Linked DNA regions of Homo sapiens. The protein of the gene in region 1 purifies or fractionates together with the protein of each later gene. This does not show direct contact. Each region holds a gene or a part of one and is shown on either strand. Other genes may lie near its edges.

Region 1 (4,157 bases):
GTGTGTCTTCTTCCTCCCCATGGCGATCTTGCCTCATACAGGGGAAACATATACAATCAGATTAGAAGTACCTCATCTTTCCATCATCAACTTGAACAGTCTGCCTGCATCAGTACTCACATACTTTTTGGTAGATTTTTATTGAGTATCTTCTGTGTGCCAGGCACTGTTTTAGGAACATGAGATGTCCTCATGGAGTGCGATTCTAGCTGTAATGGGGTTGGTAGACAGAAAGGTGGTAAACAATAAACTAAGTACAATCTGGACTATGTTAGGAGCTGGAAAAGTAGAGCAGGGTGAGGAAGTAAAAGTGCAATGTTTGGGCAGGAAGGCATGCAAGGCCTTATTGAGAAAGTCTGAGCAAGGACTTGAAAGAAATGGGAAAATGGGAAAGTTAGTCATGCAGCTATCTTGTGAAAGAATGTTCAAGTAAACAGTGCTTTCGGTGCAAAGGCCCTAAATCAGGAGTGTGGTATGTTAGAAGAATAGCAAGGAGCTACAGTTGCTAAAAGGGAGAGAAGCAGGAGTTGAAGTGAATGGGCTCAGTGGGGAGAGGGATTACATTGGGCCCAGGAAGCCACTGTGAGGATGGTGCTTTTGCCCTGTGTGAAATCGGGAGCCATTGGAAGGCTTTGAACAGAGGCTTGGCATATCTCACTTAAGTTTTAAAAGAATCATTCTGAGTGCTGTGATAGGGTGGGAGTGAAGGGGAGCAAGGAAGAGTAGAAGCAGGGAGAGTCTTGGAGGCTATTGCAGTCATCCTGGTGAGAGCTGAAGGTGACCTGACCATGGCAGTAGCAGTGCACATGATGAGGAGTGGTCAGGTTCTGGATATATTTTGAAGATAGAACTGATAGTACTTTTGGACAGACTAGACATGGGGTATGAGAGGGTCAAGGATAACACCATGGGTTTTGGCTTGGACAACTAGAAGGATGAAGTAACCTTCAACTGAGCTGGAGAAGTCTACAGGGTAGAGCAGATTTGGTAAGGGAAGAACAGACATCCAAATGGAGATTTCTATTCTGTAACTAGATGTACAAGTCCATTAAGTCACGAGACTGAATGAGATTACCTAGGAGTGAGTTTAGATAGAGACAGAGTTTAGATAGAGGACCATGGACTGAACTCCAGGGCACCAAAGTTCAGCTGTTCTAGGAGAGGAGAAGGAAGCAGCAAAGGTAACAAATAAAGATCAAACAGTGAGTTAGGAAGAAAACCAGAAGACAGGAGTGTCCTAGGAACCAAGTGAAAAATGTACCTCAAAGAAGAGGTTATGGTCACCTGTTTCAAGTGCTATGAAAAATGTCAAGGAAGATAAGGATTGAGAATTGATCATTAGATTTAGCAACATGGAGATCAAAACCAGGTTAAGTGGTAGAGGTGACAGCCTGACTTTAGTTTTGGAGAAAATGGGATTTTGTGTATTTCTTATTTAACAAATATTTGTATAACAAAGAGAGGTTAGGTAACTTGCCCATAGTCAGGCAGCTAGTAGAAGCAGTGGCAGATTTCAGGCACAGCCATTCTGCCTTCACAGTACAAGCTTTAACCACAGTGCACTGCTGCTTCTGTGTGGCTGGTAAGGCCAGTATTTTGAGGAGTTTTGCTGCAGAGAAAAGGAAGAGAATGAGATCAAGAGAGGTTTTTGTTTTCCTTTCAAATGGGAGAATTAGTAAGAAAATGATTCATTAGAGACAACAAAAACTAGTGAAGGAGAACAGGGAGAATGCTTGACAATGTCCTTGAGTAGGCAAGAGGATATGGGATCAAACACTGAAGTGGAGGAAGGGGTTGGTAGTAGGCAGAAGCATGGATATGTCATCCAGTAATAAGCAGGAAAGTACCTCATATGCCTTCCCTTTTATTACAGCAGAAGTGTCCCTTTTCTTTCAAAAGCCATCCATTCATTTGTCCTGGACTCCATTCTTTCTCATTTTTCAAGGACAGGTGTACATTTCCCTTGTACAGGTTGAGCATCCCTTAACTGAAATGCTTCAAGTGTTTTGCCTGTAGGATTTTTTCAGATTTTAGAATATTTGCATATACATAGTGAGATATCTTAGGAATGAAACCCCAGTCTAAACATGAAATTTATTTATGTTTCATATACAAATTCTACTCATAGCCTGAAGGTGATTTTATATAATATTTTAAATAATTTTGTGCACAAAACAACGTTTTTAATGTGTTTTGACTGTGACTCATCACGTGAAGTCAGGTGTTGAATCCTCCACTTGTCACGTTGGCACTCAAAAAGTTTTGGATTTTGGGTTTTTGGTTAGGGATACTCAACCTGTCATATATTACCCCATAAATATGTCTTAATATTATCCATCTTTAGAAAGAAAAAAACACTCTGATACATCCTACCTCCATCTCTACTTTTTTATCCCCCATTCTCTGTCAACCTGTCTGGTTGATTTTCTCCCCACCATATCACTGAAGTGAGACTTATAACATTTCTAGTGACCTACTTCTTGCCAGTGGTCTGAGGGTTCTTTGTCTACACCCCTTCGATGAATTTTTCCAGTCTTAGGGCTTTAGGTAGCTTTTACAGGTTGATGACTCTCAGGTGTATATCCCCCAGCCCAGACATGCCCATATAGCTCCTGTCCCAGGTGCATATATCCAGTTCTAGCTCTGCACACATATCTCTGGACTCACCTTGGATACCTGTCTAATAGGTATCTGATAGGTTTCACATGGACAAAACAAAACTGTGTTGCTTCTGCACTCTCACTCCCACCCTGAGCTTTCCCCATCTTATAATGTGGCACTGTCATCTGTTCCTGCCCAGATCAGAAATCTCGGACTCTTCTATATTTTTCTTTTCACATCTCACATGCCAGTCATCTTTTAAGTTTTGTCAGCTCTACCTCCAAAAGATATTCCAAATCTACTTGACTGCTATCTCCACTGACACAACCATAGTGCATCCACCCTTACTTACCCAGATGACTACAGGACTTCTTAACTGGCTTCTCTGGTGCTCTTCTTGCTGAGCAAGAAGTACATCCTCCACACGGTTGCCAAAGGGATTTCTAAAGTACAGTCAGGTATACATCAAATCATGCATACAAACCCACCAAGGGCTTCCCATTATAACCACGATAAAATTCAAATGCTTGGTCACATCCTGGAAGGCCCTGTGTGACCTGGCCCCTGCACATCTCTCCACCCTTATTTTCACCTCTCTCCCTCGCTTACAGGATGCTTCTGCCATGCCAGCCTTCTTTTGGCCTCTTGAACATGTTAGGCTTGTTCCAGGCATATTCCCTTCCCGGGGACTGTGTATGTATGTGCTGTTTCTTCTGTTTGGATATTCTTCCTACTCCTCCTTTGCCTACTGGCCTCATTCCCATCACTCTTTTTTCAGTTTGCATGTCAGCCTGTTCTCCCAGCATTATATTTACCTGAAACCGTCTTACTCTTTTATGTGTTTATTGTCTGTCTCTCATTAGAATGTCAGCTCATGGAGATTAAATAGTTCATTTTATTCGCTGCTGAACCCCTCCCAGCACCTGCCACAAGTGGGCACCAACTGACTGATGAATATAGCATATAAAATGTGAAGTCGGTTTGTACTGATTTGTTTTACTATGTTTTTAAGCTTAAAATTCTTCTGTACCTTTTAGACCTACTATTGTACACAGATTCTTAATTAAAGCAACAATAGAAGAAAGAATGCAGGCAATGCTGAAAACTGCTGAGAGAAGGTAGGTAATAATTTACCACAAGTAGAAGGGGGAAGGTTTTCCTGTTAAAAGTTTGTATCTTTAGAACTTCTTCACTTAGATGACAACGAAAAATATAGCACAAATACGTTTTTAAAAGCAAAGTCTGACGTTTTGCCTTTTCACTGTTTCCCAGTCAGTGCTCCAGACTTTGTATATTTGAATTAATTTATTAATTGTAACATGTAAATATAAACTATACTACATTCCTTTGCCACATTGGATCACTTTCTGAGGCTGGGAGTTCGAAACCAGCCTGGCCAACATGGTGAAACCCCATCTCTACTAAAAACACAAAAATTAGCCAGGCATGGTGACACGCACCATAGTCTTAGCTAGTCGGGAGGCTGAAGCAGGAGAATCGCTTGAACCCCGGAGGTGGAGGTTGCAGTGAGCCAAGATCGTGCCACTGCACTCCAG
Region 2 (4,157 bases), on another chromosome or scaffold:
AGGGTTAAGTGATCCTCCTCCCTCTGCCTCCAATATAGCTGGGATTACGGGTGCATGCCACCATGCCCATTTAATTTTAAAATTTTTTGCAGAGATGGAGTCTTACTGTGTTGCCAAGGCTGGTCTTGAACTCCTGGGTTCAAGGGATCTGTTTGCCTTGGCCTCTCAAAATGCTAGGATTGCAGGTGCAAGCCACTGCACCAGCCATCCTTTTTTTTTTTTTTTTTTTTTTTGGAGACAATCTTCCTCTCTCGCCCAGGCTAGAGTGCAGTGACGGAATCTTGGCTCACTGCAACCTCTGCCTTTTGGGCTCAGGTGATCCTCCCACCTTAGCCTCCCAAGTAGCTGGGATTACAAAAAAACGTGGTTTTTGGTTTTTGGTTTGTTTTTTTTTTTTTTTTTTGTATTTTTAGTAGAGATAGGGTTTTGCCATGTTGGCCAGCATAAAATATCTTTTTAATGTCAGGCTTTTATAACTTTCTAAGAGGATGTTTTAAATGAAATTGTCTTACATCCTGTATTGTACTTTTAACTATTTCAGCTCATTTTAGATGATTTTCAGGTAGTTTGTTCATAAGGCTACAATATCCAGAATAAATTCTATATTCCACAGTTGTGGCTCTTTTGTCTGATGTCCATCAGGAGAATCCAGTGCCCATATTGACCTTGTTAAGAAAACATCACAAGGAAATGGCCACTTTGTCAATCCTGAGATTTAACTTCAGGTACCACTCTTGTCTGTGCTGCTATCTTACACTGGGAGACTGTGACATACTGTCTCACTCTTAATGTCTTTACTAGTCAATGATGAATCTGGTCGAGATTCTGAAGTCAGTGCCAGGGAGCACATGAGTTCCAGCAGCTCCCTCCAGTCCCGGGAGGAGAAGCAAGAGCCTGTTGTGGTAAGGCCCTATCCACAGGTGCAGATGTTGTCGACACACCATGCTGTCGCATCAGCCACACCTGTTGCAGTGACAGCCCCGCCAGCACACCTGACGCCAGCAGTGCCACTTTCATTTTCGGAGGGACTTATGAAGGTAATGGAGAGGGTTAAAACTTCACACTGAACCAGAGCTCGAGACTGGCTAATGTTTGTAACAATTTGTATAAAATCTTAGGCTGTATCTTAGGATCACATTTCATTTTTTCTTTATGACATATGAGTTCAGCTCCTTTCTGTAACTCAGCCCTGATTTTCTGCAGTGCCTTGTCTTGTGCTGCTGGGCAGTTGGCATCATAGGATCTTTGCTGTTATCCATTTTGATACTGATATTATTCAACTTATGGGCATGTTAAGTTAGATACAATCTTGAAGGGACCCTCTTTTTTTTTTAAGCCAGTCAGATTTAGCAGTGGGGGCTTAATGACATTAATGTTTTGTTTCTGTTTTTATTTGAGACGGAGTCTTTCTCTGTCATCCAGGCTGGAGTGCAGTGGTGCGATCTTGGCTCACTGCAACTTCCACCTCCAAGGTTCAAGCGGTTCTGCAGCCTCAGCCTCCCAAGTAGCTGGTATTACAGGCGCACGTCACTACGCCTGGCTAATTTTTGTATTTTTAGTAGAGATGGCGTTTCACCATGTCGGCCAGGCTGGTCTCAAACTCCTGGCCTCAAGTGGTCTGCCCGCCTTAGCTTCCCAGATTGCTGGGATTACAGGCGTGAGCCACTGTGCCCAGCTGACAGTAATGTTATAAGTTCAGATAACCCAGTACCATGGGACCAAGTGGAGTGGCACTCTTCTTTAAGGTTTGTTTTAATAACTGGTTAATTTGGGGGTTTCTGAGAATATTGCCTGTGTATTACCTTGGGGTTGTGTTTCAGTTACTGGGAGTTTTGTTCAATCCACCCAAACTTGGGAGGCAGCATCATGTAGAAGAAAGGGTGTGGGCTGTGAGCCATACAGCTCTGGGCTTTATTCCCAGTTCTACTTCTTACTGTGTGTGTGGCTTTGAGCAAGTCAGTTAGCCTTGCTTTGTATGTTTCTTTATCTGTGAAATAGAAATGCTAGTACTTCAGTGGAAACACTGTGATGATAATAGATAAAATGTATAAAGCTTACGGCATCTTTCCTGGCACTTTCCAGGTTCGATTTGTGCACTCTTAATTGTGGATTGAAATGCATCACCAGTATGAGGCCATTGATATGTTTTGTGTGGTTTTCTGTTTGCAGCCGCCCCCGAAGCCCACCATGCCTAGCCGTCCCATTGCTCCTGCTCCACCTTCTACCCTGTCACTTCCCCCCAAGGTTCCAGGGCAGGTTACCGTTACCATGGAGAGTAGCATCCCTCAAGCTTCAGCCATTCCTGTGGCAACAATCAGTGGACAACAGGTTTTTCTTCCTTTTAATTTGCTGATTTTCAAACTGAAATGCCAAACTGTTGATCATGATTTATTGAATGCTAGCAGTACATTAGTCACGGTAATAAAAAAAGATCAAACAGTCACTGATACCTGCAAGTGAAGATAGTAGGTTTGAGAGAGAAGGATAACTGTAAAGGGAGTAGAAGCCAGTGTCCATAGTGGTCATTTAGCTAGAATTTATTGAGCAGCTACTAGATGCTCGATTCGACCCTAGTGTGATATATAAATCTAGATAAAACAGTCCGTGTCCTTGAGGAGTCCGGAGTCCGGTTCGTGTTTGGTTTTAGCGTCAAGAACTGCCTTCCGGGGGTAGGCAGTGCTGCTCTGTGGTTTCTCTGAGGAGAGCAGATGTGCATCTCTTGGGATAGGTTACCTCAAGCAGCTCTCTAGTTCCAAACTTTTTTTTTTTTTTTTTTGAGACAGAATCTCACGGTGTCACCCAAGCTGGAGTGTAGTGGTGCAGTCTTGGCTCACAGCAACGTCCACGTCCCGTGTTCGAGCCATTCTCTTGCCTCAGCCTCCCGAGTAGCTAGGATTACAAGCGGGCACCACCACCCCCAGCTAATTTTTTTATTTTAATAGAGACGGGGTTTCACCATGTTGGCCAGGCTGGTCTCCAACTCCTGACCTCAAATGATCTGCCCGCCTCGGCCTCCCAAAGTGCTGGGATTACAGGCATGAGCCACCGCACCCAGCCTTAGTTGCGAACATTTATTCTGAAGTCTTCTGTTTTAAGGTTTTTTTGTGAAATTTTGCAATCCTACTCTGCTGTGTACCTGATTAATTAAATATTTTACATTTTTTACCTGGGGAAAAAAACTAAATCTAAAAACTTTCCCTTCACATTTTCAAGAAAAATTTATATCCCAAAGAGGTGTACTGTGTTTTTTCCTTTTGTCATACTGCTGAGTACTCTCAGAAGTACCAGAACCCTTAGCTGAGAAGCCCTGAACTCTGTGGTTTGGGAGAATGTAAGGGACATTTCAGGGTTGAGCTGAAGAACTGGTAGGGAGCACCTGTTGGATACCAACTGACATTTACTTAGAAACAAAAAAGCTTAAAGAATGGATGGATGCAGTGGTATGTAAAGGAAATAGTGAGAATGGGAAAAAAAATAAGCATTTGGCCAGAACAGGGAAAACAAGTGTGAAAGGTAATATCGCAGATGAGAGTTTCTAAACGTAGATATCGAAGTATATTATCTGTAATTATGTGGGCCTGCAGCAGTTGTGGGGTCCTCATACTTCTCACATGCCTGTTAGCACAGTTCATTGTACGGTATGGCATGTAAAAGTAGCTCAAGCTGAATGTCCTTAGCCCTTTCTCTTGGGATACTCACTATCTAAAAAACAACCTGACCCACATTTGGAGGCAGGTGACTTCCTAGAGGCAATGGCTAAGAGCAAACATGTAAAAATAACGTTCTATCCTCTTTCTTTCAGGGCCATCCCAGTAACCTGCATCACATCATGACTACAAATGTGCAAATGTCTATCATCCGCAGCAATGCTCCTGGGCCCCCTCTTCACATTGGAGCTTCTCATTTACCTCGAGGTAACGACTTGCAAGTTTTGTTCAAACTCTCAAAATGTAGTAGTAGATATACATTTGGTAAAATACGTAACACAGAATGTATCTAGAATCAGCTTGTTAAAGTTGCAGAACAACAGTCTGCAGAACCGTGAACCAAATAAACCTCTTTTATTTAAAAAGAAAAAAAGGCCAGGTGCTGCGGTTCATGTCTATAAACCCAACACTTTGGGAGGCTGAGGTGGTAGGTTCACTTGAGTCCAGGAA
Region 3 (4,157 bases), on another chromosome or scaffold:
GAATAAGGGGAAATTGGATACAACGCTTAATTTAATGAAATAAAATAATGTAAAAGAGATACAAAGGAAGATGTAACATGCAGAAAAGTAGTTGGAAACTCTTGGAAAAATAAAATGCTGTATAAGAAAGGAAGTTTATCAAATGTACTACTTATTTCTGCAGGGAACCACATTTACATATGTTATAAATACTATATTGTAAAAATGAAAGATAACTATATATAGAAAGGATGGTAGAGGGGAGATATGGGTGTTGATAAGTAAGAATCCCCATTGCTCATAGAGGATAAACTTTATAAATAAGTCAGCAGGCCAGGGACGTTGGCTCATGCCTATAATCCCAGTGCTTTGGGAGGCTGAGATGAGCAGATCACTTGGGGTCAAGAGTTCGAGATCAGCCTGTCTAAAATGATGAAACTTCATCTCTACTAAAAATACAAAAATTAGCTGGGCATGGTGGCATGTGCCTGTAGTCCCAGCTGCTTGGGAGGCCGAGGCAGGAGAATTGCTTGAATCCAGGAAGAGGAGGTTGCAGTGAACTGAGATCACACCACTGTACTCCAGCCTGGGTGACAGAGTGAGATTCCGTCACACACACAAAAAAATAAATAAAACAAATAGTATATTATGAATAGTAAGAGATGACTATAACTATCAGATGTTAACACTTTGGAGGTGGAAAAACAGATTTTTATCCTCTTTTTGGTTTTTCATTATGAGTCTAGATTTGTTTTTAATGATGTATATGTATTGTTTTGATAATTTAAAAAATGTGGCCATGCAGACACACATTGTAAAGGTGAAATGGTTTCACAATCTTAGTTATGTCAGTTATGTTTTACATTTAATGAATTTAGCTAAAGAACATGCATGGATTTCTCAGTAGAGAGCTATAGTTAAGGTTGTAAGTTCTGGAGTTAAATGACTTAGATTTAACTACCTTGGGGGGTAGATTAACCTCTAAACCCCAGTCCCTTTTTTTTTGCTTTGTTTTGTTGTGTTGCTTTTTGTTTGTTTGTTTTTCTTATTTATTTAAGACCCTAGTCTCTTGAACTATAAAGTGGGGCTGATAACATGTATCTCGTAGCATTGTTCTGAGGATTGAATGAGATGGTCTGTTCAAAGTGTATCAAAAGTAACCAGCATGTAGTAAGTTCTCAGGAAATGTTATCTTAAAATAACAATAAAATGATTTACCAGAATGAACACACTGAAGCAGTAAGTTCCATAATTAATTTTACATAAGTTATCAGTAACTAAAATTAATTATATCTATTCTTTAAAACATCATGGAAATCATTGATTACAAAATTATTGGATATTCATTATTACATTGAAAAATGAAGCTGGCCAGGTGTGGTGGCTCATGCCTTTAATCTCAGCACTTTGGAAGGCTGAGGTAGGCAGGTTGCTAGAGCTCAGGAGTTCAAGACCAGCCTTGGCAACATGACGAGACCCTGTCTCTACAAAAAATACAAAAATTCACTGGATGTGGCACACCTGTAGTCCCAGCTACTTGGGTGGCTGAGGTGGGAGGATCATTTGAGCCCAGGAGGTTGAGGCTGCAGTGAGCCATGATAGTGCCTGGGGAACAGAGTAAGACCCTGTCTCAGAAAAAAATAGAGAGAGAGAGAGAAATAAAGAAAGAGAAAGGAAAGAGAAAGGAAGGGAGGCAGGGAGGGAAAGAAAATAAAACAAAACAAAACAAAGGAAAGAAAAATGAGAGGCCAGGTGCAGTAGCTTGCTCCTGTGATCCCAGCTACTCAGGAATCTGAGGTGGGAGGATCTCTTGAGCCTAGGAGTTTGAGGCTGAAGTGCACTGTGATTGTGCCACTGCACTCCAGCTTGGATGAGAGAGTGAGACCGTCTCTGATGAAAAGAAAAATGAAGGCTATAGTTTCATAAGAGTATAAACTTGGGGCCAGGCGTGGTGGCTCACGCCTGTAATCCCAGCACTTTGGGAGGCCGAGGAGGGCGGGTCACGAGGTCAGGAGATCAAGACCATCCTGGCTAACACAGTGAAACCCCGTGTCTACTAAAAATACAAAAAATTAGCCGGGCGTGGTGGTGGGCGCCTGTAGTCCCAGCTGCTCAGGAGGCTGAGGCAGGAGAATGGCGTGAACCCAGGAGGCAGAGCTTGCTGTGAGCCGACATCACGCCACTTACACTTTTAGCTTGGATGACAAAGTGAGACTCAAAAAAAAAAAAAGAAGAATATTAACTTGGAGGTAGCACAATCTGGGATTATATCCTGACTCCACTATTTTCTCAGATATATTATGATAAAAATATTATACTTATATAAACTTGGAGAAGCTTTTTTCTTTTTTATTTCAGCTTTATTAAGGTACAGTTTACATAAAAGTGATGACTTTTATGTTTAAAATGTGATGGGTTTTGACAAAAGTATACAGTGTTACAACCATCACCGTGATCGTAATAGAACATTTCCATCATTGGAAGAGCCTCTTAGCCTCTTTGAAACCCAGTTTCTTTGCATGTTACATAGAGATAAAAGCCAGCAACCTCGGGTGGCTGTATACACAGGACCTAATATATACAGTCCCTGGCACATAGAAGACATTGCTAGTGTTCTTATCATACTCATCATTTTTTTTTCTGTTATTTTCTAGCTTCTGAAAGTTCTGCTGAAGACAGTGAGCAGGAAGATGAGAGAGGTGCTCAAGACATGGATAATAATGGCAAAGAGGAATCTAAGATTGATCATTTGACCAACAACAGAAATGATCTTATTTCAAAGGAGGAACAGAACAGTTCATCTTTGCTAGAAGAAAACAAAGTTCATGCAGATTTGGTAATATCCAAACCAGTGTCAAAATCTCCAGAAAGATTAAGGAAAGATATAGAAGTATTATCCGAAGATACTGATTATGAAGAAGATGAAGTCACAAAAAAGAGAAAGGATGTCAAGAAGGACACAACAGATAAATCTTCAAAACCACAAATAAAACGTGGTAAAAGAAGGTATTGCAATACAGAAGAGTGTCTAAAAACTGGATCACCTGGCAAAAAGGAAGAGAAGGCCAAGAACAAAGAATCACTTTGCATGGAAAACAGTAGCAACAGCTCTTCAGATGAAGATGAAGAAGAAACAAAAGCAAAGATGACACCAACTAAGAAATACAATGGTTTGGAGGAAAAAAGAAAATCTCTACGGACAACTGGTTTCTATTCAGGATTTTCAGAAGTGGCAGAAAAAAGGATTAAACTTTTAAATAACTCTGATGAAAGACTTCAAAACAGCAGGGCCAAAGATCGAAAAGATGTCTGGTCAAGTATTCAGGGACAGTGGCCTAAAAAAACGCTGAAAGAGCTTTTTTCAGACTCTGATACTGAGGCTGCAGCTTCCCCACCGCATCCTGCCCCAGAGGAGGGGGTGGCAGAGGAGTCACTGCAGACTGTGGCTGAAGAGGAGAGTTGTTCACCCAGTGTAGAACTAGAAAAACCACCTCCAGTCAATGTCGATAGTAAACCCATTGAAGAAAAAACAGTAGAGGTCAATGACAGAAAAGCAGAATTTCCAAGTAGTGGCAGTAATTCAGTGCTAAATACCCCTCCTACTACACCTGAATCGCCTTCATCAGTCACTGTAACAGAAGGCAGCCGGCAGCAGTCTTCTGTAACAGTATCAGAACCACTGGCTCCAAACCAAGAAGAGGTTCGAAGTATCAAGAGTGAAACTGATAGCACAATTGAGGTGGATAGTGTTGCTGGGGAGCTCCAAGACCTCCAGTCTGAAGGGAATAGCTCGCCAGCAGGTTTTGATGCCAGTGTGAGCTCAAGCAGTAGTAATCAGCCAGAACCAGAACATCCTGAAAAAGGTGAGAAGGAAAATGTGTATGTTGACTTATTTTAGGGTTTCCCCTCTTAAAGTTTCAATGATTTCACAGTATCTCTTGTTATAACCTGAGGCGATTAAGTGTCATATTTGTGTGAACATGGTAAAAATGGAAATTTTAAAGGTAATTTGAAAATGAATAGTGGAATGCATTTAAAAGCTTGAGAAGGCTTTAATGTGCTTTGCTTGAGCCATCCATGGCATTTTATTGTGGACCAGAACACATGCTAGAAATTGCACCCAGGCCCAAATCCAAACCTGTTTGAGAATTCATTATATGCAGTGGTTGACTATATGG
Region 4 (4,157 bases), on another chromosome or scaffold:
GAAACACCAAGTGTCCTAAAGTCAAAGCAATGTGTTACATGACTTTATATTGCTCGCAGTGCTTAGATGTAGCAGGTGCTCAATTCATTTTTGTTGAATGAATACATTTACTGTATACAACTAATCAAGTGTGCGTTTTCTCTAAATTCTTATAAAAACAATACTTGGGGAAAATAACAAGAAGACCCTCCCCAATCCTAGCACAAAATACCAAAAAAAAAAACTTAAAATGGGACAAAAACAACCTACAATCCTTTTCCTCATCCGCACTTCTGACTGTACATCAGGCCAGCCATGCAGAAATGAGCAAGAGGGTGCAAGACTACTCTTGGGGTACCAGGGAGAACAACCTAACTCCAAGGAGCCTCCTCAGACACCCTCCACTTCTGGGCCATTCCTTAGCAACAGAAGCAGAAGATGAAACCACTTTCCATAACTGCAGCTTGGAAGTCTCTTTTCTGAAAACTCTCCCTGACAGAGTATCTGGGATATGTTTTGGAGAATAGCTCTTAGGGCTGCATTACACCGACGATCGGCAAATGGTCAAACATTGAAAGATGATTCATTGCCATTTAAAGGAGCCTTACCTGCATTCCGTATCCTCTCTTTGTACTGCTGATCTAGTTTTTTCATTCTCTTCTGATATTCCTGTAATGTACCTGATTTTGAACATTTGAAAAATAAAATTATTGTGAATATAAATCTGCTCTACATTTTGCTTCCTAAAATTATTATCTAGCATCAACACTGACTGTTTCAGTAACACCAAAGGAAGACACACCTCAGCAAAGTTAACTCTGGTTCTTAACCAAGGCACACAGCAGAAACCACTAGGGGCCCATTCAAAGTCTACCCAACCCAGTGGATCAAGGGTCTGTAGTGAGTGAGGGGGAGTGGAAAATTGCCAATATCTCCACACTATTCTGATCAGTTGCTGCAACAGTCTGAATCAACGGGCCTTCCTTTACTGGAAAAGGTTCATTCTCCTTCAGTAAGGTCTAGGTCAACGCTCTCCAGTAGAACCTTCTGCAATGGTGTGTTTTATATTTGCAATGTCCAACATGGCAGGCACTAACCATTTGTGGCTATTTTAGCACTTGAAATGTAGCTAGTGGAACCGAAGAACTAAATTATTAATTAAATTTAAACAGCCACATGTGGCTAGTGACAGCATTAAACAATTCAGGTATAGATTCTAACCAAATCGCTATTCATTTCATTGCTCTTCCCACAAAACAGTTAATTATGAGGGGCCCATCTTGTGGGGGGAAGTGTTTCCTGATTATAATGCCTGACCATGGGCTAGTCCAAGGGCGTGGATCACTCACCAGCAATAAAAGCACATAGTAGAAACAGCAGTATCAGGCTGGGCATGGTGGCTCATGCCTGTGATCCCAGCACTTTGAGAGGCTGAGGTGGGCGGATCACCTGAGTTCAGGAGTTCAAGACCAGCCTGGCCAATGTGGTGAAACCCCGTTTCTATTAAAAATACAAAAATTAGCCGGGCCTGGTGGCAGGCGTCTGTAATCCCAGCTACTCGGGAGGCTGACGCAGGAGAATCGCTTGAACCCAGGAGGTGAAGGTTGCAGTGAGCTGAGATCGCGCCACTGCCCTCCACCTGGGTGACAAAAGCGGAACTCAGCCTCGAAAAAAAAAAAAAGAAAAGCAAAAACAGTTTCACTGACAAGGGGACTCCACAATATGAAACCGAAGAGCTCACTGCCACAGCTAACTGTCCCCAGGACCTTGCAGTGTGCACACTGCTGTGCTAGACGCTCCTCATGCATAATCACATCTACTCTTACTTGCTTCATTTTGCAGATCAGAAAACAGATTAAACAAGAGAAACTGGCATGTCCAAGGTCACATTACTAGAAGCAGGGAAACTGGGATTCCAATCCCTCACAAAACTCCAGAGCCTGCACTCTTTTTTTTTTTTTTGAGACTGAGTCTCGCTTTGTCGCCCATGCTGGAGTGCAGTGGCACGATCTTGGCTCACTGCAAGTTCCGCCTCCAGGTTCACGCTATTCTCCTGCCTCAGCCTCCAGAGTAGCTGGGACTACAGGTGCCCACTACAACGCCCAGCTAATTTTTTGCATTTTTCAGTAGAGACGGGGTTTCACCATGTTAGCCAAGATTGTCTCGATCTCCTGACCTCGTGATCCACCCGCCTCGGCCTCGCAAAGTGCTGGGATTACAGGTGTGAGCCACCGCGCCTGGCCTCACAGCCTGCACTCTTAACTCTGATGCTGCACTGCCTTTAGCAGCTAGCAGCATTTGACAAAATACAATCTACTTTTAATGTAACAAGCAAAAAGGAGAAAACACAGTGTGAATAATCCACAAGGTCATTAACATTTGGTTTAGAAAAAACAGTAAAAACTTTATTCTTTGATAACAATGTCTCTCCTAAAAATCTCTAGCTTTAGGCACAGTGGCGTTCAATTCGTGCTCCATTGAAAGTCCCAAGTGAGATTTCATTTGAAGAAAGAATCTCACACATACTGGAAATAAATGTTTCAAAATCAAGGAGCTGGAAAATCACCACTTTACTGACAGCAAAAGATAGCAAAATGTACTGGATAGCTAAGATCAGCCAGACCGTGTTTTAAATAACTCCCACAGAGAAGTGAAATACACAGATTTCAAGGGTTTGTAATATTAAGAAGCATATTTAGAAATGCAGGATTCAATCACACACCAACCTTCTTGCAGTTGTTGCAACTGCCTCTTGAGAGAAGCCAGTTTGTCCTGATACATCCTATAAAAAAAAAAAAGTCACACTAACAGATAAAAACATTCAATACTCAATTCCAAAATAACCTACTCACAGAAATTAGCTGGGCTGTTATGGGAAGGTCATTAATGTCCTTCAGGGAAGAGAGGAAAGTAAAGTCTGCTTGCTGGCTTAAAATGCACCAGCAGCCACAGGGATCAGAAAGGAACAAGAAAGAACCCTGTGTTCCTCAATCTTATTCTAATTTTGTAGATTCTCCCATGTTATCCCATCTTTACAGAATCCGTCTAAAACTTGCAACGATAGCAGATTTTAATAAATGACAATTATAAACAGGCAAGCACACACACAATGTAGAAATGGCATTAAACACAACTCTTACATCAACTCTACAATTAGATTGTAAGTTACAGGAGAGTAAGATTATGCCTTCAGCATGTTTTTCTATGCAGATATGCTTAGCAGTGTAAGAACTAAGTCAATAAACCTTCATGTCATTTTTTAAAGCACTACTCTTTTAGGATCAGAGAAATAATAGTAATTCAGAAAGAAAAGTTAAAAGGCAGCATTTACTGGCAGCCCCAGCTGGATGGGAATACACAGCACACACGAAGCAAAAGCATTTGGCATGTTAGTTTTTTCCTCTCACACCTAATGGATTATAGGCAGTCATAACTTCAGCAAGTTGGTTTGAAGGTGGGTTCCACATATAAATCACATTTCAGCAAGTATTTTTGCTTCTACCTGAAAAACACCCTCAATTTAACAGTGATAAAAACAAGATTTGTGATCTGAAAGAACACTGTCCAACATATAACAAGCACAATAACCTTTTGGTATATGTGCTGCTGAAGTGAGCACATGGGCGTGATAACCTTTTTAGCGCTCAAATAAGGGCTGCAAATACAACCCAACCCTCTGTAAGGGGAGGAGAGTAGGCAGAATTTGAGACTCACACACATCTCACTCTTTCAGGGCAAATTCTGATGCACTTTAGATTTCCCCTTGAATTACACAAGGCATTCCATTTTAACCGAAATTTTTTCTGTATCATCAAATACTAAGGGAGGCCAGGCAAGGTGGCTCACGCCTGTAATCCCAGCACTTTAGGAGGCCGAGGCGGGTGGATCACTTGAGGTCAGGAGTTCGAGACCAACCTGGCCAACATGGTGAAACCCTGTCTCTACTTAAAAAAAAAAAATTAGCCAGACGTGGTGGTGGGCGCCTGTAATCCCAGCTACTCGTGAGGCTGAGGCAGAAGAATAGCTTGAACCCAGGGGCTGGAGGTTGCAGTGAGCCGAGATCATGCCACTGCACTCCAGCCTGGGCGACAGAGCAAGACCCTGTCTCTTAAAAAAAAAAAAAAAAAGGCTGGGCACATTGGCTTATTCTTGTAATCCTAGCACTCCAGGAGGCCGAA
Region 5 (3,674 bases), on another chromosome or scaffold:
CCATCATCCCTCCATCTCTCCATCATCCCTCCATCCCTATATTATCCCTCCATCATCCCTTCATTTTTCCATCATCCCTTCATCCCTCCATCATCGCTTCATCCCTATATCCCTTTATCTATCCATCATCCCTTCATCATCCCTACATCCCTTTATCTCTCCATCATCCCTTCATTATCCCTCCATCCCTCCATCTCTCCACCGCTCCATCCCTCCATCGTCCCTCCATCTATCCATCATCCCTTCATCATCCCTCCATCCCTCCATTATCCCTCCCTCATCCCTTCATTCCTCCATCATCCCTCCATCCCTCCATTTCTCCACCCCTCCATTCCTCCATCATCCCTCCATCTCTCCATCATTCCTTCATTATCCCTCCATCCCTCCAACATCCAACCATCATCCTTTCATCATCCCTCCATCTCTCCACTCCGCCATCCCACCATCATCCCTCCATCTCTCCATCATCCCTTCATTATCCCTCCATCCCTCCATCATCCCTCCATCCCTCCATCATCCCTCCATCCCTCCATCTTCCCCCATCCCTCCACCTTCCCTCCATCCCTCCATCTTCGCTCCATTATCCCTACATTATCCCTCCATCCCTCCGTCCTTCCACCCCTCCATTCGTCCGTCCTTCCACCCCTCCATCATCCTTCCATCGCTCCATCATTCCTCCATCCCTCCATCTTCCCTCCATTATCCCTCCATCATCCCTCCATCATCCCTCCATCCTTCCACCCCTCCATCCTTCCACCCCTCCACCCCTCCTCTCCTCCATCCCTCCACCCCTCCACCCCTCCATCCCTCCATCCTTCCATCCCTCCATCCTTCCACTGCTCCACCCCTCCACCCCTCCACCCCTCCATCCCTCCATCCTTCCACTCCTCCATCCCTCCACCCCTCCATCCCTGCATCCTACCATCCCTCCGCCTCCCACCACAGTCCTGAACCAGCTGGAGGAGCTGCTGAGCGACATGAAGGCCGACGTGACCCGGCTGCCATCCATGCTGTCCCGCATCCCCCCGGTGGCCGCCCGGCTGCAGATGTCGGAGCGCAGCATCCTGAGCCGCCTGACCAACCGCGCCGGGGACCCCACCATCCAGCAGGTCAGGCTCGGCCTGTGTGCCCCGGCCCGAGCCCCCTGGCGTGCCCCTGGGTGGAGGCTGGGTGGGGGGCCTGAGACCACCTGTGAAGCTGAGTCCTTGCCTCCAGGGCGCTTTCGGCTCCTCCCAGATGTACAGCAACAACTTTGGGCCCAACTTCCGGGGCCCTGGACCGGGAGGGATTGTCAACTACAACCAGATGCCCCTGGGGCCCTATGTGACCGGTAGGTGCCCGTCCGCTCCGGGCAGCATGCACACGGGTGCCCGCCGGGCCCGGCCTGCCTGCTGCTGCCAACGTCAGGCAAGCCCGGCTCTCCTCTTTTTTTGACAGATATCTAGCCGTCCTCGAGACTTCCCTGTGTTGCAGCGCTCATTTCCAGCTGAGGTGAGGGCTGCTGGGTGCTGTGTTCCTCCCCGCCACCCCATTGCTGGCAAACCAGGCCTGGCCACAGTCAGCCCTGCCCCTGCACTTGACTCCCGTCCCTAAGTCCTGGAGCTTTTACTGCCTCCGGCGGCTTTGAGAGCCACCCACCTGCCTGGAGCCCCTCTACCTTGCCCCCTTGGCCCTGGGACCACCTTGTGGCCAGCGTGTCTGTCCACTGGGAGGCTGGGGTGGCAGGACATGAAGGGGTCGGTGGACTTGGGTGAGCTCCTGTGTGTGCACATGTGTTCTCATTTGCACACATGTTCCCAGCGGAAGTCAGAGACTGCTGCCCCCGCCTGGAGCCCTGTCCTGCCCCTGCTGTCCTGCTGGTGGCAGACATCACATCTTGTCTTACACCCTCACTTCCTGCCCAGGACCAGGAGGGTGGCTGAGGGTTTTGTGGGGGCTATTGGCCAGGAGAGGGGGCTTATTTCAGAGAAACTGCCAGTTCATTCTGGTCTTCTCTGGGGCCACCAGCCTCCACTACGCTGTGTCTGTCCCTGTGGGAACCGTGTCTTGCTGGAGGAGGCTCCAGAGGGGCTTCCTGGCTGGCTGCCCCTGCCCACTGCTGCTTCCTGGGTGCTCTCGGCACTCTGGGTGTAGCTCATGGCCTGGCCCGGCAGCCTGTGGCTGGGAGGTCATGGCTGGGGGGCACCCCGATCATAGTTGGTTGTGATAGGTGGAGAAGCAGCTACAGGCTGTTGGGTGCCACCCTGATGCCCCCTATAACTGCCCACCTGCTTAACCCACTGATTTGCGTTTTGCAGCCACGCCTGCCGGGCCACCTGCCCGACCCACATGGGAGAGAAAAGCTGCCACCTTTTTAGGAGCCAGCGCCACCTTGGGACAAAAAGGGAAACCTAGTAATGCCATCACATGGAGGACGAGGCCCAGCTCAGCTGGGCCAGAGCCCAGAAGTGCCACCTCATCATAATTCAAGTGTTCTTCCACACAGCGTTGCCCCCACAACCACGCCGGACGTGCCCCCTCGCCACCTTTTCCAGACGACTTCTTAGAAGAGATTTCATTTATTTGTACATCTTTTGCACTTTCCTATTGAAGACTTGAACACGTTTGTCTTGATAAAAGTTGGATGACGTATGGAAGATTCGAACCTGCAGCACTGATGTCTCTTTACCGATGGGTTCCAGACCCAAGGTAGTCCTGGCACTGCCCTGTGGACTCAGCCCAGCTGGGGAGGACATGGCGCCCGGTGCCCTAGGAGCCCTCAGTGTCCCCTACCTGACCTGTCTGCACCTGTGTGACAGCCCCTTCTGATTTGGCCCCCTGCCCGCTTGGAGCCTCCCAGCACCAGACAGGGCAGGTTTGGGGAGCCGCTGTCCAGCCCTATGGTGAGACCCTGGCTGACATTTCCCCTCCTTCCTGCCAAGGCTGGAGGCCGCCAGGTGTTTGCTCTCTCCTTGTGGGGAGGTGGATCCTCTGCCAGCAGGTGTCTGTCCCCGGCCCAGCGCATCTTGAAGGCCCTGGACTCTGTTACCAGTGGGGGGCCTGTGGCCCCGGCTCTTCACAGCAGGCAGAAGCGTATGATCCCAGGGAGGGTGGGCTGGGGGGGGGGCAGCACTTGCCTCGGAGCCACTGCTGCGTTGGGTTTGCCTTCTGCCAGAGGTGTGGTTAAGGGCAGTGATAGCTGCGCCCCAGCAAGGAGGGTCATGGGCCCTGAGCTGGCCCAGGAGACCCTGGCCCTGCCCTGTGCCCTGGGATGCCTACCCTGCCCACCTCCGGAGGTGGAACCGGGCTGCCCCTGGGGGCCTGGACTTGTCCCATTCCCCTGTCCCTGGAAAGGCCTTCCCGGGGGCTTTTTGCCTGAGGCTGCACTCTTGGAAGGCGTGGGGAGAGTTCTGCCTGGAGGGGGACTGGACCCAGTGCCCTCTGCAGACCCCTCCCAGCCGCAGCACCAAGGGCTTGCTGCCTTGTTTCCTGCCAGGAGCGCCCTGACATCCCAAAACCATCTTCCCACATGTGGGTTGTTGGAATCCCACCCACTCCCCCGGACCCTGCCCCTCCAAGTTGGGGACGGAGATGGGGAGCAGGTCAGGCCCTCCCTAGGCCTGTTTGTGTGTGATCCTTCTCCTGGCCCCAGGTCGACCTGGAAGGCGTTTCTGAGTCTTGTACTGGGACCTTCC
Region 6 (4,157 bases), on another chromosome or scaffold:
TATGAGATGTAAATCATAGCTGCTTTTGTTAAATAGCAAGGAGGATTAATCCGTCCTCTCTGATTTTTGTTCCTAGTTCATGTTCTTTTTTATTTAATCCCCTGAGATCATCCTTAATTATTATTTTTCAGATGACTTGGACTTTGCAATGTATACATCCAATTCTGAGATTTTTAAATTTAGTGCTTTCTCACTCTCAAAAAGCTTCTTTCTCTATTGGTTTGTTTTTTTTTTTTTTTTGGACATGGAGTCTCACTCTGTCACCCAGGCTGGATGGAGTGCAGTGGCGCAATCTTTGCTCACTGCAAGCTCTGCCTTGTGGGCTCACGCCATTCTCCCACCTCAGCCTCCCGAGTAGCTGGGACTACAGGTGCTCGCCACCACACCCAGTTAATTTTTTGTGTTTTTAGTAGAGACGGGTTTTCACCGTGTTAGCCAAGATGGTCTTGATCTCCTGACCTTGTGATCCGCCCACCTCGGCCTCCCAAAGTGCTGGGATTACAGGCGTGAGCCACCGCACCCGGCCTCTCTATTGATTTTTCTACTTTCCCTACCCATAGATCCTATAATTCATTCACACCAGAACCTGTAGCCTGATGTTTCTCAAAGTGGGTTACCTGCAACAGAATCCCCTGTTGTTTATTAATAATATAGATTCAGTCTAGATTTTGCATGTATGAGGAGCTTCCTTGTTATTCTAATGTCTTTTTTATTTTTTTGAGGCAGAGTCGTACTCTGTCTGTCAGGCTGAAGTGCAGTGGCACGGTCACAGCTCACTGCCGCCTCAACCTCCCAGGCTCCAGCAGGCCTCTCACATCAGCCCCCTGAGTAGCTGACACTTTAGGCACGTGCCCCCATACCCAGTGAATTAAAAACATTTTTTTAGAGACAGGATCTCCTTATGTTGCCCAGGCTGGTCTCAGACTCCTGGCCTCAAGCTAGCCTTCCCACCTTGGCCTTCCAAAGCACTGGGATTACAGGTGTCAGCCATCATACCTGGCCTCTAATGTACACTGGAGTTTGTTTTATCCAGTGGACCCCTCCAACTTTATTCTAGCCCCTCTTGGCCATTCTGTATTCCCTTTTCCAGCTTAGATCTTGAAGTATCACATATACCTGCATTCTAGACTTTCAAGGGACTTATTGCTTGCTCTGACAGTCCCTGAATCATTTCCATTGCCTGTTTTTTTCCACTCCATTACTACATCAGTCTTTGCCTCAATGGATGTCGGTTCCCTTTCTCTTTTCTTCCAGCACCACAGCACGCCTGGATGAGGATCCAAAATTACCTCTGTCCCCACTCTTCCTCTTTCTTCTGTTTCTTCACTTTCTTCTCCTGGAATGGTCTCCAGTTCTCACAACTTCAGCAAGACTCTCATATGTCTCTCTCCAGTTCTTTCTTTATCTGAGTTCTGGTTTATAGTTTGAATTGTCTGCCAGATATTTCGAATTGCACATTCCACCATCTCTTCAAACTCAACATTACTAAAACTAAATGGATCACTTTTACCCCCAAACCAAGGTCTTTTTCTCTCACTTTGGTTATGAAATAATTATTGATTTGTTTTATTTTTAATTGCAGGCTCTTCAGCAAAAGCCCTTGTCAGTTTAAAAGGTAAGAAGTATAGCATTTTTAGGTATACCATAGCTAAAAGTCTAATTTGTTAAATTAATCTGGATATAGTGTTTCCATTTTCCTTCTAAGTTATGATTCATTGTAGCTTTTCAGTATTGGTTTTCACTGATAACCTTAAATTAATATGCTTTTATAGGAGAATTGATCCTCAGTTGTTAGAAATTATTTTTAAAAATTTCTAAAATTATTGATTAAAAACCTTTCTAATTAAACATTCCATAAATATTTAGATTAAAAGCATTTGTTAAACGACTGTGCTGACCTATATGTTAGCATAATTGTTTGTTTGTTTGTTTTTGAGACAGTCTCTCTCTGTTGCCCAGGCTGGAGTACAACGGTGCAATCTTGGCTCACTGCAACCTCTGCGTCCCAGGCTCAAGCGATTCTCCTGCCTCAGCCCCCTGAGTAGCTGGGATTACAGGCATGTGCCACCATGCCTGGCTAATTTTTGTAATTTCAGTAGAGACGGGATTTCACCATGTTGGCCAGGCTGGCCTCAAACTCCTGGCCTCAAGTGATCTGCCCACCTTGGCCTCCCAAAGTGCTGGGATTACAGGCGTGAGCCACTGTGCCCAGCAGATTTTTTGTTTATTTATTTTTTGAGACAGGGTCTCGCTTTGTCACACAGGCTAGAGTGTGGTGATGTGATTACAGTTCACTGTAGCCTCGACCTCCTGGGCTCAAGTGATCCTCTTGCCTCAGCTTCCCATGTAGCTGGGACCACAGGCACATGCTACCATGCCCAGCTAATTTCTTTATTTTTTGTAGAGAGGAGGCCTCACTTTGTTGCCCAGGCTGGTCTCGAACTCCTGGGCTCAAGGGATCCTGCTGCCTCAGCTTTGCAAAGTGCTGAGATTACAGGCATGAGCCACCACACCTGGCCCGTAATAGCTTATTTTTAAGAGTCTTGCTTTCACTGGGCACGGTGGCTCACGCCTGTAATCCCGGCACTTTGGGAGGCTGAGGCAGGCGGACCACTTGAGCTCAGGAGTTCGTGATTAGCCTGGCTAACAAGGTGAAACCCCATCTCTACTAAAAATACAAAATTATCCGGGAGTGGTGGCAGGTGCCTATAATCCCAGCTACTTGAGAGGCTGAGGCAGGAGAATTGTTTGAACCTGGGAGGCAGAGATTGCCGTAAGCCAAGATCGCGCCACCACACTCCAGTCTGGGAGTCTGGGTGACAGAGTAAGACTCTGTCTCAAATTCCAAAAAAAAAAAAAAAGAATCTTGCTTTCTAAGTAATAATGTCTTGAAATAAAAATAAAAGAATAATAGTACTTTTCTCATTCTAAGAAAAAGTTTGACATGTTCCTTGGTCTCACTATTTCTTTTGGCAGGTACATTAGACTAACCTTTTTAACATAGTTTCTTTAAAATTTTACCTCTTGATTAAGATTCTGGTAGGTCAATAAATTTGGAACCAAGCTAAATATTCTCAAAGTACTTTTAGTCTTTAAAGCTACTATATTGTGCTTTGGATTGGTGATTTACCAAATTAAATCCTTCTAGCTTGAGAAGACAATTTGTCTTCCAGAACACCCCAGTTTGTTTGTCTTTTGTGATTCTTAAAAATTATTCCATTATTCTTTTTCTCCCAATATTAAACTCATTTCTCTCCCCCCTGCCTTTTTTTTTTTTTTTTTTGAGACTGAGTCTCGGTTTGTCGCCCAGGCTGGAGTGCAGTGGCACAATATCTTGGCTCACTGCAACCTCTGCCTCCTGGGTCAAGTGATTCTTGTGCCTCAGCCTCCTGAGTAGCTGGGACTGCAGGCATGCATCACCACACCTGGCTAATTTTTGTATTTTTAATAGAGATGGGTTTTCATCATGTTGGCCAGGCTGGTCTTGAACTCCTGACCTCAGGTGATCCTCCCACTTTGGCCTCCCAATGTGCTGGGATTACAGATGTGAGCCACTGCACCCGGCACTCATTCATCTTGATAAATCATTTATATAAGTAACGTACATTTCTTATGGAAAAAATGAGAAAATGCTGATGAGCCACTAGAAGAAAATAAAAATAACCAGCTTGTATATTCATCCCAGTTTTCTATGCCTCTATATAAACATCTTTTTTACAAAAATTAAACTTACCCCTCTTTATTTTCACAATATGTCTAATCATTATAATATGTGTAAATCATAATATGTCTATTCGATAGAATTCTTTTCTGCTTGTGTACAACTCTGAAGACATTTCTCTGAATTAAGGAAAACAGAAATAACCACGCTGATTTACTTTTTCTTTTTTTGTGAGGGGACAGAGACTTGCCATGTTGCCCAGACTGAAGTGCAGTGGTGCTATCTCGGCTTGCTTCGACCCTGGCTCGCTTTGACCCTGGCTTGCTTCGACCTTCGCCTCCCAGGTTCCAGCAATTCTCTGCCTCAGCCTCCTGAATAGCTGGGACTACAGGTGCGTGCCACCATGCCCAGCTAATTTTTGTATTTTTTGTAGAGGTGGCGTTTCACCATGTTGGGCAGGTTGGTCTCGAACTCATGGCCTCAAATGATCCACCCA
Region 7 (4,157 bases), on another chromosome or scaffold:
CAAGACACATCTGGGGAGGCCTACTTTCTATGTTGTGGCATAAAAGTATGTATTGAAGCTTTAGTAGAGATCTCAAAAATGGTTGGATGGTAGCAAATTACTAAGAACTCTCAAAGTTTCTAAAGCCTTAGTTTCAGCTTGCTAGAAAACCTATGTTGAGTATTATGGCTAGTTCCATAGTTGAGTTGGGAAATGTCTTTGAGGAGACACTTTTTCACTTTGTATTCATCTGTACATTTTCTGTTACTTGCATTCTGTCATGCTCAGGCTATTAGAGCAGGTACATTTTTATAACTGGAATGTTTATGTGTAGTGAAGCTCTGAGAGGACTTTGCATTAGATCTCAGCAGCATAATCAGAAGGTTGTCCTTTGTCTCAGCAATTTTTAAGCTAATAGTAGCAGAAATTGCAGTGGAAATAGACTGCTTTGCCACAACATTCAGAAAATCATTTATCTTTTTATTGCAGTTCTTGTCACCAAACAATACATTTTAGTACTTCTCAAATTGCAGAACTCTCATAGGGCTGGGAAAATGCCTGTAGACACATACATACTATGAATGTGCTAATGTTTTTTGTATTTTCATAGCCCATCAAAGCTCCTGAGTCAGTTTCCACTATAATCACTGCAGAATCAATCTTCTACAAGGTAAGCTTTTGTAGAGTTACTGAAGGAAGAGTTGGGCCTAGTGGGTAATGTGCCACTAAAATGTTGGATTAGTCTAAAGGTCTCTGCTACTCTTTATTTGTATAAGGTGTGATTATACTTTTTGTTCCCTTCTTAGCTGTTTTCCCCCATAAGTGGCTGTTATTAAAACATCTCATCTAGAGCTGAAGTGGGAGGAGAAAGTGCCTACTGACACATGATGTGAGGATCTTAAGTATTTTTTTTTAGTGTAGATTGTAGGAATTATTCTTAAAATGCTGATTGTATAGTGTGGAGCCATGGAAGACTGAGCCGTTAGTGCGATGGCATTGAAGAATGAGAAGGACAGAGACAGGATTTGGACTAGTAGAGGTTGTCGACTGTGGTGTCAAATGGGTAGAGTAGGCCCAGAGATTCTAAAATGCCTTTAAGTGGAGTTGAGCTGAGTAAGGGCAGTAGTGAGGATTAACACCTACTAGAAATTCATAGTGAGAGGAATTCCAAGATGTTTTGATAAAAGAATGAGGAGGTCAGGTTTCCCAGGGCCAAAGTCCATGAACATCTGATACCTCAGTGAGAGAAGTGACAGATTGTTGTGTTTAAACCAGAAGTCTTAGGAAAGGAATTAGAACATAGACCCCCAAGGCTCGGCAGGCCTGGCACGGCACAGGCAGCAACCATTGAAGGCTATTTGGTGTTTCGGGATCTGAACTGTCATTTAGGGGACAGTGGTGTGAGTTAGTACTTTATACTTGACCCAGGTGGACTGAGAAACTCAAGTGATGATGCCCTTAAGTATACTTTTTTTTAAGCCCACAATCTATATAGTCGAAGTCTGTTCCTCCCAACAGGGGTACACTGGCATTCCTCAGCAGGGCTGGGAAAAACCAACAACAAAAAAAGTCTGTACACAGGCAAACATCTCTCTTATTTTTCCAACATTTAATACATTGTTAATAAAATATCTAAAGTTTAGCAAACAGTTGCTGTGTATCAGTGGCTGAGCATTTTGCATGCTTTATTTCATTCAGTTCACTCTATGAGGTGGATACTACTATCCCCATTTTCTAGATGAGAACATTGAGGCACAGCGAGGTTAATTAACTTGTCCAAGATCACATAGCCAACAAGTCATGGAGTGAGGCAGTCTCATGCCAGAGCTTAAGCCTAGAGCATAGTTCCTGGCTCTACAGCTTTAGCAAGTGACTGGCTATGTGACGAGGACCAACCTCTCTAATGTCTCATCTGTAAAATAGGAATTGTAAATAGTTACTACCTCAGTGGGTCAAATGAAATCATATGTGTTAAGCACTTAGCAGAGTAAGCACTCAATGAATAGTAGGAGTTATCACATCTTCGTATTTGTGCATTACCTTCACAGTTTACAGATTAAGGCCAGAAGCAACTTGTTGAGCTACGGGTTTAGTGTACTAACAGTTTCCATGTGTGTCTCCATGGAAGGGTGTGTGGGACCTGTTATTGTGACTGTCTGTACTTTCGTATTGTTGTCTGCCACCCATGTTTATTAAATGATAAGGACAATAATGCAACAAAGTAGTCAAGTAATGTTGCAAATGCCCAGTATTGTAGTGGCTATCACAGCAGTGCCACTGGCAGGCAGCACCATGGTGGCAAGTTCAAGAGGTCACTGCCAGCCACTGAGCTAGAGCCCAGATCAGGCATGCAAGAGGAGCCTGAGTGGGAGCCACTGGGGATCACGGCCAAGAGTGTGACCACCCAAGACCCAGAATGGCTGAGTGGCCTCCCTGGAGCATGGCAGTGGCAGAACAACTCCATGAACTCAGATCTGGTGATGCCTAAACTAGTGCTGTTCTCGTGTGGACCCCTTTTCTCTACCAGAAACCTTGAATCCTCTCAGCAAATGAGGAGACTACTCAGATCAGTGACTTAGTCCTGTTTGGTGTTATATATGTGTACACAACACAGCACATATTAATAAATACCTACTATGTGCCAGGCACTGCCTACCACTGGAATCTTTCACTAAGACATTGTTTTTACTTTGCATTTCTGCCTTTACACTATGAAAGTAGATGTTTTGGATTCATATTCATTCAGCATACATTTGAATATGCTGTGTTATGCATAGTAAGCCTATGATAAGCAAGTATTCTCATTTAGAATTTGGGAATATTGATTATACATGTGGACAAACAAACCATAAATGCAAACTATTTATATGATAAATAACTTTGGACTGATGGCTGGGAGGAAGGACCAGCTATTGATGGGTAGGAACTAGCAAGTAGCGGACTGTGGCCTGCATAGACCAGACCCATCCGTAGTGATCCAGATGAAACAGCCACCCTCAGACACTTGGATAAAGGGTCCACCAGGAAAAAACTCCTGGCCTATCAGGTGCTATGTTACAGTTCAGTTACTGGAAGTATTTCCTCAAAAGTGTTTTTATGGTTGAGGTACACATTCCTACAGCTTTACCTGCTGCCAAGTCCCTGTTTCAAGGGAAGCAGCAATGAATTACACTGTTCCCGTAGTCAAGGACAGTATATCTTACCAAGAACTATACCCACTTAAGGAGGTGCTGGATGTCATAAAGATTTGGATCAACCATTATGGGTGTTCAGAGGAGAGATTATTTCCAGCTCAAGACCCAGGGAAGAGGACATAGGATGGATACCAGAGTCATAGGGAGGATTTAACACAGGACATGTACACATTAGTTAGTTGGGTATAAAGTGGAACAGAAATGAATGAGACACAAAGCCTTGAATGCCAGAAATACTAGTAGTCCTGTTGTGGAAGGATATAAAACTCAACTGGGAGTGGAAGAGAAAGGCAGCAGTGAGTCTAGGAGATGTACAGTAGGTTGAGGTAAACATATCCTGAAGACTATAATCCAAAGATTATTTTTGGTTTGAATTTGTTTTGGTTTGAATTCATGGTATCTATTTTCTTTGAGTGGATGGTTGGGGAGGGTGGCATGTAGAATGCATTCTTACCAAATCAGCATGATTTTCAAGACAGTACAGAGAAAAGACTGCTGAGCTGATGTAGGAGCTTTGGCTGCAGTCTCTATGGCTTTCAGCAAGCCGTTTAACCTTACTACTGCTTCATGACTGTGGCTAACAAAGTAGGGATAGTACGGAGCACAGAGGATTTTTAGGGCGGTGAAACTATTAATACTCTCTTTGTATGATACTATAATGGTGGGTACATGTCATTATACATTTGCCCAACCCCACAGAATACACAGCACCAAGAGTGAACCCTAATGTGAACTCTGGTCTTTGATGATGCTATGTCAGTGTACGTTCATCCGTGTAACAAGTGTACCACTCTAGTGGTGGGAGGGGTTATTGATAATAGGGGAGGATGTGCATGTGTGGGGGCAGGAAGTATATGGGAAATCTCTCTACTTCTGCTCAATTTTGCTGTAAACCTAAAACCTCTGTAAAAAATAAAGTCTATTTTTTAAAAAGTGGGGATGGTATTACGGCAATATAAAATCAAAATACTTTATGAACAAATC

What was found.
Region 2: the proteins of SHPRH (region 1) and SAP130 purify together in Homo sapiens (affinity purification with mass spectrometry, with the first as the bait; one large-scale study listed by BioGRID). This does not show direct contact.
Region 3: the proteins of SHPRH (region 1) and ARID4B purify together in Homo sapiens (affinity purification with mass spectrometry, with the first as the bait; one large-scale study listed by BioGRID). This does not show direct contact.
Region 4: the proteins of SHPRH (region 1) and SUDS3 purify together in Homo sapiens (affinity purification with mass spectrometry, with the first as the bait; one large-scale study listed by BioGRID). This does not show direct contact.
Region 5: the proteins of SHPRH (region 1) and CHD5 purify together in Homo sapiens (affinity purification with mass spectrometry, with the first as the bait; one large-scale study listed by BioGRID). This does not show direct contact.
Region 6: the proteins of SHPRH (region 1) and LIN9 purify together in Homo sapiens (affinity purification with mass spectrometry, with the first as the bait; one large-scale study listed by BioGRID). This does not show direct contact.
Region 7: the proteins of SHPRH (region 1) and GATAD1 purify together in Homo sapiens (affinity purification with mass spectrometry, with the first as the bait; one large-scale study listed by BioGRID). This does not show direct contact.

The regions. Positions count from the first base shown.
Region 1 is NC_000006.12:145,887,582-145,891,738, reverse strand, and holds part of SHPRH (E3 ubiquitin-protein ligase SHPRH), read left to right. Parts: intron 1-3,638; coding exon 3,639-3,719; intron 3,720-4,157. UniProt on the Homo sapiens protein: E3 ubiquitin-protein ligase involved in DNA repair.
Region 2 is NC_000002.12:128,014,560-128,018,716, reverse strand, and holds part of SAP130 (histone deacetylase complex subunit SAP130), read left to right. Parts: intron 1-801; coding exon 802-1,037; intron 1,038-2,169; coding exon 2,170-2,328; intron 2,329-3,802; coding exon 3,803-3,914; intron 3,915-4,157. UniProt on the Homo sapiens protein: Acts as a transcriptional repressor. May function in the assembly and/or enzymatic activity of the mSin3A corepressor complex or in mediating interactions between the complex and other regulatory complexes.
Region 3 is NC_000001.11:235,181,270-235,185,426, reverse strand, and holds part of ARID4B (AT-rich interactive domain-containing protein 4B), read left to right. Parts: intron 1-2,633; coding exon 2,634-3,842; intron 3,843-4,157. UniProt on the Homo sapiens protein: Acts as a transcriptional repressor. May function in the assembly and/or enzymatic activity of the Sin3A corepressor complex or in mediating interactions between the complex and other regulatory complexes.
Region 4 is NC_000012.12:118,382,616-118,386,772, reverse strand, and holds part of SUDS3 (sin3 histone deacetylase corepressor complex component SDS3), read right to left. Parts: exon of another isoform or gene 3,389-4,157; intron 2,762-3,388; coding exon 2,706-2,761; intron 660-2,705; coding exon 588-659; intron 1-587.
Region 5 is NC_000001.11:6,104,051-6,107,724, reverse strand, and holds part of CHD5 (chromodomain-helicase-DNA-binding protein 5), read left to right. Parts: intron 1-945; coding exon 946-1,109; intron 1,110-1,215; coding exon 1,216-1,330; intron 1,331-1,437; coding exon 1,438-1,445; 3' UTR 1,446-1,491; intron 1,492-2,297; 3' UTR 2,298-3,674. UniProt on the Homo sapiens protein: ATP-dependent chromatin-remodeling factor that binds DNA through histones and regulates gene transcription. May specifically recognize and bind trimethylated 'Lys-27' (H3K27me3) and non-methylated 'Lys-4' of histone H3.
Region 6 is NC_000001.11:226,298,631-226,302,787, reverse strand, and holds part of LIN9 (protein lin-9 homolog), read left to right. Parts: intron 1-1,582; coding exon 1,583-1,615; intron 1,616-4,157. UniProt on the Homo sapiens protein: Acts as a tumor suppressor. Inhibits DNA synthesis. Its ability to inhibit oncogenic transformation is mediated through its association with RB1. Plays a role in the expression of genes required for the G1/S transition.
Region 7 is NC_000007.14:92,450,112-92,454,268, forward strand, and holds part of GATAD1 (GATA zinc finger domain-containing protein 1), read left to right. Parts: exon of another isoform or gene 1-589; coding exon 590-649; intron 650-4,157. UniProt on the Homo sapiens protein: Component of some chromatin complex recruited to chromatin sites methylated 'Lys-4' of histone H3 (H3K4me), with a preference for trimethylated form (H3K4me3).